Linked DNA regions of Homo sapiens: region 2 is linked to region 1. Evidence: fine-mapped expression QTL. A gene starts in region 1. The other region holds a variant in brackets. All regions are shown on one strand. Distances are from middle to middle.

The links.
Region 2: its variant is fine-mapped to the expression of CCND3 in fibroblasts (GTEx, PIP 0.90).

The regions. Positions count from the first base shown.
Region 1 is chr6:41,939,222-41,943,605 of GRCh38, forward strand. It overlaps CCND3 (cyclin D3), which reads right to left and starts at 2,587. Exons shown (of 5, transcript NM_001760.5): 1 at 2,231-2,587; 2 at 1,149-1,364. The coding sequence starts at 2,428. RefSeq lists enhancers at 1-689, 270-564, 1,646-1,775, 1,818-2,769 and a silencer at 2,286-2,735.
Region 2 is chr6:42,043,565-42,047,948 of GRCh38, forward strand. It overlaps a transcript of CCND3 not described here. Among named protein-coding and RNA genes, the nearest start is that of TAF8, 4.8 kb to the right of the region's middle. RefSeq lists enhancers at 1-394, 1,106-1,155, 1,748-2,338, 2,163-2,312, 2,339-2,928 and 1 more. The variant G/T (reference allele first, on the strand shown) is at 2,058.

The DNA.
Region 1 (4,384 bases):
CTCACAGCAGTCGGGGGCCCCAGTACCCTGGCTTCCCTGCCAGCCAATCACAGCAGCCTGCTTGCTGCCCTCCTCCCTGGGAGATGGGGCCCAGAGACTCCTCTCAGGGTCAGCAGAAGACTTGGCCCGCCACAGAGCAAGGTGGAGGAAGGTGCCAGCTCACCCACCCTCTCCCCCAGCCTCCCTAGGAGACAATCTGCATGTCCTAAATAACCTCTTCCAGATCCAGCAGCTCCCCCGCCTCCTCCCCAGGCTCCTTCTGAGGCGGGACAGAACCGGTGACTTTCCTGCCCGGCCTGAGCCCAGCCCAAGTTTCCAGCAAGAGGCCCAGGGAGCCACTTCCCAAACCACAGGAGTGACAGCAGCTCCCCACAGGGTTATGAAAGACCTTGGTCAGAGAGGGCGGGCCAGGGGAGGGGGCACCATTATCACATCGGAAGCAGATGCAGCTCACCTCCCTGTCTGTCCCTCAGCTTGGGCCTTGGGCTAAGGGGGGAAGAGGGAGCTGTTTCCACCAGGCCCAAAGCAGCTGCTCCAGTTCCTCAGAATGAGGACGAGGAAGGATTAGGAAGAAGCTGTTTCTTCCGGGATATAAGAGGAAGCAAAGAAGGTGGGATGAAATACATCAGCCCTTCCTTAAAGCAATCAGGGCCTGGCTTTAATTGGCTCTGGGAGGCTTTTCTATCACAAAGTCCACATGAGGATAAAGACTCAACCAAGGCAAAACCCCCTCCCCCACATGAAGCACATTCCACTCCCCTACTCCAGTGGGGGTGTGCAGGCATGCCCTTCTGCTGCCAATAAATAACTCATGGTGGCTGCGTAAACCCAGAGGCAAAGTACTAGTGAGTGTAGACATGCAATTTGACTTGTTGCTATCTGGGGGAAAGACCAGGAAGGAGTGGCATCCCCTGGAGGTCAGGAGGAGGGGGTTTAATGCCTGCCTGCAGCTCAAGCCTGGGCGGGAGTGATACTAACCATCACACCACAATGCCCCATCGTTTGTTCCACCCCAATTCCTTTCCCAAAGGTCCTGATCCCCTTGCTTCCTCTCCAGGGGGCAGAAAGCCTCTGATATCTCAAGCTTTCCTTTTCCTGGAAAGTGGGGAGACAATACGTGTCGGGGGTGGGGGGAGTTACACACGCACCCGCAACTGGCGGGGAGAGACAGCGTGGTCGGTGTAGATGCACAGTTTTTCGATGGTCAGGGGCGTGGTCTCGCGCAGCTTGGAGGCCAGCAGCATGCAGACCGCACCCAGGAGCTGCAACTGCGCCTTTCGGGTGGGGACGCAAGACAGGTAGCGATCCAGGTAGTTCATGGCCAGGGGGAAGACTTCCTCCTCACAGCGCTGCTCCTCACATACCTGGGGGAGGGCGCACAGTCACTGCTGGGTCTGGAGCGTGGGGAACACAGCAGCGGGGGGGTGGGAGCGCTGAAGTGAGGTGGGATAGGGAGCAAAAACGGCAGAGAGGGTAAGCTACTTAGAGAGACAAGGACCAATAAAGGAGGAGGATGCGCCCTCCCCAAGGTGACGCCCCCCACTTCCTCTGCGCGGCCTCCTCCCCTCTCCCCTTGACGGGGGAGTGGTAAAGCCAAGGAGCCCTTGCTCACGGAGGATTCCAAACGGAGACTCCCCTCCCCCACAGCGAGGGGAAGTGGGACGCAAGGGTCACCCATGGTAGCCAGAGAGCTGGGACCTCACCCCCATCACCGCCACCACTGCACACACCCGAGGGGAAGGGAGGAGGCTCCTGCCGCTGCCTCCTGCACTTTTCATTTCCCTGTCGGCCGGAACAGGGCGCGCGCCACCCCCATCGCCTTCCCCGCCAGAACCCCGCGAAAGACACAGGAACCGGCTCCCGGGCGGGGGCGGCCGAGCCCAGGGTTTTCCAGGCGCGCTCTCCGGAGAAGGCCGGGAGGCGGAGGGAAGCGGGAGACGCTGTGAGAAGCCGAAGGGGAGAGAGTGTCCTTGGTCCCGTTTGCTCGGCCCGAAGAGAGGCACAGTTAGGGTGCCAAGTGACTGGCAGTCACTGTCGGGAGGAGCCGATTAGGGCTCGGGAAAGCAAGGGAGGCAGCTGGCGTGGGTGCCCTAGTGAAAGGCCAGGCCCCGGGAGTCTTAGCCTCGGAGCATCCTGCAGATTGCTGTGGGGACCGGGATGTCCCGACAGGGCGGCCCCGGTGTGTCCAGACCCGGGAGCGGTGGGGGAGGGGGACGCGTCCGGGCGGTACCTCCAGCATCCAGTAAGCCAGCATCTTCCGCATGTGCGGCTTGATCTCCCGCTGCACGCACTGGAAGTAGGAGGCGCGGGGTACGTAGCGCTCCTCCAGGCGGAGCAGGCTCTGCAGGACACGCTGGTCCCCCAGCAGCCGCGGGTCCGGCCCGGCCCGGGGCGCGTGCCGGGTGCCTTCGCAACACAGCAGCTCCATACTCGGGCAGCGAACAGGCAGGGCGGGAGTGCGGGCTCGCGAGTCCCAAGGCAGGCGACGGGCCGGAGAGCGCGGGGCGCGGGTCTGGCGCTGGCGCTGGCACTGCGCGGCGGATCCCCAGCCCGCCCGCCGCCCGCGCGCGCGCGCCGCTTCCCTGACAGGCGCCCCGCCCCTCGCGACGATGTAGCAACCGTGGAATGCTCGGACGTCGCAACGCTCCGAGGGGCGGGGCTGCGGCGCCCCGGACGGAAAGGGTTGGCTGAGCGCTCTCCCCTCCCTCCCGCGGCCCCATTGGGCCGCTGAGCGCAAGCCGGCCGGCTTCCGGGCACTCCAGGCCCTCTGGACCACCGGGTGCAGAGAACTTTCTAGGAGGTGGGCCTCCTACCCACCCACGGGCCCTCCCATTTTGCTTCTCGGACTCTAGTCACCCAGGAAACAATTTTTCTCCAAAGGTCATTCATTCACTTATTCATTCGTCAAACCCTACTTCACCGGCTGCTTGCTCTAAGGAATGCGATAAATAATGTCAGAGCTAGTTCTTAGTGAACGCTGCTCGAAAGCCTCACGATGTAATGACTCACTACATCTTCACGAAAACTCGGAAACCGAGGCAACTGTCATTCAGTTGGTCCGTGGCAGAGCTAGGATTGGGAAGCTGGCCTTCTTGCTGCAGATTCTGTGTTCTACACCATTGCTAGTTAAACTGTGATCCCAGACCTGTCCCGTGCGTGGTCATCGCCTGGGAGCTGGTTAGAAATGCAGACTCTCAGGCCCACCCCTAACCTGAATCAGAATCTGCATTTTAACTAGATTTCTGTGCACTTTAAAGTATGAGAGCTTTAGTCTAAGTCAGCATATAACAGAACGGAAAGGCCATGGAGTCATGGCCTCACCTTGTTAAGTTGCTTGCCTAGGTTTGGACAAGCCCCTAAAGTCGGCCTTAGTTTCTGTTTGGAGAAACTGTGGACGGAGAAACTAGATTCTCATTGAATCAGTTTCTTGCACAGACTCTGTGAGATCTACCGGTTGCATTTCTTCCACCTCCCAAACTTTTGGTTACTTTGTAGTTTTACCGGAAGCTAGATTCCACTTGACGAAGAGGCCGAAAAAGACCTCCAATAATGCTCCAAATGGGAGGAGGCCATGAGGATCCCTGCCCTACTGGGGTCCTCCTGACTTAGGAGACACTAAGGAAGTGTCTAACCATTTTCTGTTAATTATTCTTTTTTTTTTTTTTTTTTTTTTTTGAGACGAAGTCTCACTCTGTTGCTCAAGCTGGAGTGCAGTGGTGCGATCTGGGCTCACTGCAACCTCCACCTCCCGGGTTCAAGCAATTCCCGAGTAGCTGGGACTACAGGCACGCACCACCATGCCTGACTAATTTTTGTATTTTTCGTAGAGATGGGGTTTCACTATGTTGGCCAGGCTAGTCTTGAACCCCTGACCTCGTGATCCGCCGGTCTCGGCCTCCAAAAGTGCTGGGATTACAGGCGTGAGCCACCGTTCCCGGCCGAATTATTCTTTCTTATATTATAAATTGTATTGTAGTTTTCATATCATAAAATATTCTTTTACATTGTAGAAAACTTCAAAAATACAAATAAGCCACAAAAAAAGGAAATAATCATTTGCAATTTGCCATGAAATAACCCTTTAATATATCAATGTTTATTTTTCTAATCTTTGTTCTATGAATAAACACACATTTTAAATGGAATCATCACAAACTGTTTTGTAAGCTTTTTTCATTAAAAAAATACTGTTAACACTTTTCCATGCTATTAAATATTCTAGGACATAATTTGTAATAGGGACATAATATACCATTAGGTGAATGTACAAAATGTATTTTGGCAAACCTGTATTGGTGGAAATTTAAATTATTTCTAGTTCTTCTCTATTAGACATAATACTGTAAAATATTTTTGTGGTAATATCTTTGTGCACACTCATGAT
Region 2 (4,384 bases), 100 kb after region 1:
CGCCACGCGTGTTGTCCCAGCTACTCAGGAGGCTGAGATGGGGAGATCAACTCTGCCTGGGAAGTCGAGGCTGCAGTGAGCCGAGATCACGCCACTGCACTCCAGCCTGGGCGACAGAGTGAGACCCTGTCTCAAAAAAATCAGGGTGTCCTTGCTCATTCTGGGCTCTGCCTCTGTGTCCCTGGAGGCCCAGTGGCTCTGTGCCTCTCTAAAGGTCTGAGGGGGCAGCAAGCAGATCTGGGCCAACGACGGAGGTACCAGCAACCGTCTCCTTCCAGAGATAACCCCTCAGCCCTCACCTCAGGAACGACTGTCCTGGGGAATTTCACCCAGGGTGGGAGAACTGGTCAGGCCACTGAGTGCAAATAGTTTCAGAGAGGTGGGGCTCCTGAGGCCCCTTCCGGGAGATGACACAGGTGTCATGCCCTCTGAAGGGCATAAAAGGCCATGCCACATTAGCTACCCTGCTGGCTCGCAGGGCCGTCGGTCCTGCCCTCTGCTCTGGGCACACGGGTCCCTCTCTCTCAAAGGGAAAGGACAGTCAGGAAGGGGAAAGAGAAGATGTGGAAGAAATCCCTGACCTGGGGACGGGTGTATGCCGCAGAGGCGGAGGCCTGCACGTTCTGGCCGGAGCCTGGACAAGACAGAAGAGCACCTTTTACGGGGGCTTTGCTGGATCAAAAGCAGTTCTCTGGGCCCCGGTGTGTAAACAGCTGGTGATGGGCTGGGAGCAGAGGCTCCCTGAAACCAGTCAGCGCCTGAAGAACCCGGCAACACTCTTCATTCACCCAATCCAGTCACCCCAAGGTGACACACGGGGCAACAGCTCCACCTGGTGGACGATCAGGGACTACCACGGGCCAGGGAGTATGGGAGAGCAAAGAATGACATAGAAGAGGAAAGCAGGGGGAAAATCACATCAGGGGTTTACAGGCGAAGGGGCTTTGAGGTCGTCTTGCTGGCAGAGGCCCCTCTTATAGCATGAGCTCTAAGCCCCATTTGTTAGAAAGTTCTACGTTTTTTGAAAATCTGCCTCCACTAGTCCCACTAACCCCCTACTTCAAGGTTTGCCAGGGCAAACTTTTAAATATTTGCATACAGCTATAGTATTCCTCCTAAATCTTCCCCTTTGCTGCAATCTTCCAGAATTTGACCTGACCTCTCACCTCCTGCATCTTTTTTTAACTTGGCTATCTTTTCTTTCTTTTCTTTCTTTCCTTTTATTTATTTATTTATTTATTTGAGACGGAGTCTCACTCTGTTGCCCAGGCTGGAGTGCGATGGCGTGATCTTGGCTCACTGCAACCTCCGCCTCCCGGGTTCAAGTGATTCTCCCACCTCAGCCTCCTGAGTAGGTGGGATTACAGGCCCGTGCGACCACGCCCGGCTAACGTTTTTTTTTTTTTTTTTTTTGTATTTTTAGTAGAGATGAGGTTTCACCATGTTGGTCAGGCTGGTCTCGAACTGCTGACCTCGTGATCCGCCCACCTTGGCCTCCCAAAGTGCTGGGATTACAGGCGTGAGCCACTGTGCCCAGTGGCTATCCTTTCTTAAATACATTAACTTCCAAGGAATCCCTTCCAATTCTATCCCTCTCCCATACTAGCAGCAGCATTTAAAAAAATCCCTTTATATTTCAGCCTCCCTGTCTCAGTGTTTGATATATTAGGAAAGTCAATGCTCAGACTGAGAGTTAATTCACGAGTAAAGAGCCTAGACTTTGAAATCAGATAGATCCTCGTTCAATTCCAAGCTCTGCCACTTACTAGCTAAATTACTTTGAGCAAGTTTGCCTTTCTGAGCCTCAGTTTCCTATCTGTAAATTGGAGATAGAGGTGTTTACTACCTAGAGTTGTGGTGAATAAATATTAAATGAGACAGTACAAGTAAAAACTTAGGGACAGCTCCCGCAACACCATTCAGCTCCTAAGTGGCAATTACAGCCACATTCCTCTGAGTTTAAAGGTTGTAGGAAATGCTTTGGGGAAGAGAAAAGTGAAGGGGCCAAAGAAGAGACTTTCTGGAATTAGCCTTTCTCAACCTGCACGAATCCCAGG[G/T]GAATTCCAACAGATGGGTAACTTGTTCCAATGCCATTTCTAGCAGTGTCTGTTGCCACCCCTAGAAAGGGGCAGGCCTTGACAGCTCTTTGAAACTTGAGGATTTAAAATTTAAATGTCTTTGAGAGCAAGATAAACACATCTACTGCTCAGCAGGGAAAGGGAAACTTGGCAGGGGCCCCAGAACTTTCCCCACCCCCAGCCCTCCCTAAACTTCCTCTTGTGGTTTTTCAAGAGTACAACCTGTTCTCCACAGCCAAGCCAGTGCCTGGGGCAGGGGGCCAGGGCGTGCCAAGGGCTCCGCTGCACCCCACCCTACCAGCGAGTGAGGGAGGAAGGTGCGTGCGTGGGAGAAGAGCAGCTTGGAGGTTTATAGTTCTTAAGGTTCACGTCCTGCTTACCCGTTTTCTCAGTGCAGCCACCCTCCACCCAGTTCCCACCCTCGACTCCCAGCATCAATACCCATGCCCCCAACACACATCCCTTTCTCAAAGACAGATGCACGAAGTGCTTTGACTGCAGGCAGAGAGGGACCGCCTCAAGGCCTCCCCAAACCTGTGGGGAGGGCCCTTGTAAGAAATTTAAAAGCGTTTCAGAAAGGAGGTGGAAAAGGGGCTGGAATCCATGGAAACTGTCCCGTGCTCTCGCTTGCATCACCAGCATTATCCCAGCCTGTCTGGAGGGACTGGGTAGGATATACAGATGCAGCTTTGGAAGCAGGAGCTGTGGGAAAGAGAGGTGTGAGCATCTTAAGCCTGGACCCACTCCTTGGCCATCTTCCTTACTCATCTACCAAGCTGGAATGCACATCTAGAATGTGAGCATCTCTGCTATTCTTAATTCCCAACAAAAGAGGTGTCTTGGTTTCCCAAATCCCCAGATTCTGGCACATCACGTCCAAGTTGAGAAGTTCTTTCTTGAATATAATCTTAGTTCATTCCTCCCGGTTTATTCATATTCCTCCTTTCCCTTTGAGTGAGGCTTACACAGGGGGAAACATTCATACGTTTGTGTGCACGCACACACGCGCGCGCACACACACACACACAGCCATCAGGAAAGGATACCAGCTCTGTGCAGTTCCCACAACTCTATTCCAGGCCTGCTGGGCTCACTGTAAACAGTACCAGCCCTATGGCTCAGCTAACAGATGGCTGTATCATCCAAGATACAGGACCACAGACTCCCTTTAGGAAACTCCTAAGTTCCTGGCTCAAGTGCACATTTTTTGTGGTCAGCGAAGGAGGCAGGCTAGCCTAATGGTTAAGAATAAAGCCTCCCAAATCAAGTGACCTAGGTTTAAATCCCAGCTCTGCCATTTGTTTCTTGTGTCTGAAGGAAGATTACTTATCTCCAGTGCCTGCGTTTCCTCGTCTATAAAATGGAGAGAATCCTAATGCCTACCTCATAGGACTATATTAGGAGGTTTAAATGAGATATGATCTCTAAGCCACTTAGAAGAGTACCTGACAGTGTTATGTAACTGTTAGCTAGTATTCTAAGCCCTTGAGGGAAGGGGAAGCCGGAAGGAGAAGATGTTTGGGACCATGGAGGTCATGATCTCAATAACTGGCATAGACTAGAACTCTGCTACAATTATCAGAGGCTTTCAGTGTTAAGTTCCAGGGGAAGAAACTCTGATTTGATTACCATGACATCCCCAACAGCTGTGGGAATAGCCTGTGCAGATGGAGTATGGCCATAGCAAATAGGTGCTGAATGAATTCATAAATTGCTGTGTCAGTCATTTCCCGAAGGAGCCCCAGAATTGAACGGCCAGAAGAATCTGTGAGGAAGCAAAGGGAGATCCACTTCTCTATCCACGTCTGGTCCCAAAGAGAAATGAGGTGGTAGGCAGAGGGCAAGGACTCGTCAGAGGAAACAGTCTCAGAGTCCAGGGATGAGGAGGGGGTGCCCAGGATTGTGTGGACTGTCACATCACCCCCAGGTGGACCCTCCCAGCTGTACCCAGCTGGGAATTCCTGGGTTCTTGGGACCCAGCCCAGAAAACTGCCTTTTCTGGGATTCATCCTGTTCATTCCCTTGATGGTTAGACAGTGGATTAAAGGGAGCAGGAATTGTTTCTGGGTCGCCCCTATATTCCAGTGTCCAACACCACAGCTGGGGTTCAATCCAGTTCTGTGGAATAAGTGCCCCCAAAGACTTCTATGCTTTTCATCCTTCTGAACCCAACTCAAATGTCCTTTTCTCTCTGAAGCCTTCCCAGCCACCCCAGCCAGTGTACTTGGCATCTATGTCTATTGTTTTGTGATCCATATTAGCTGTGGATGAATAACATCATTGCACCCTCAGCATTCCATATAATG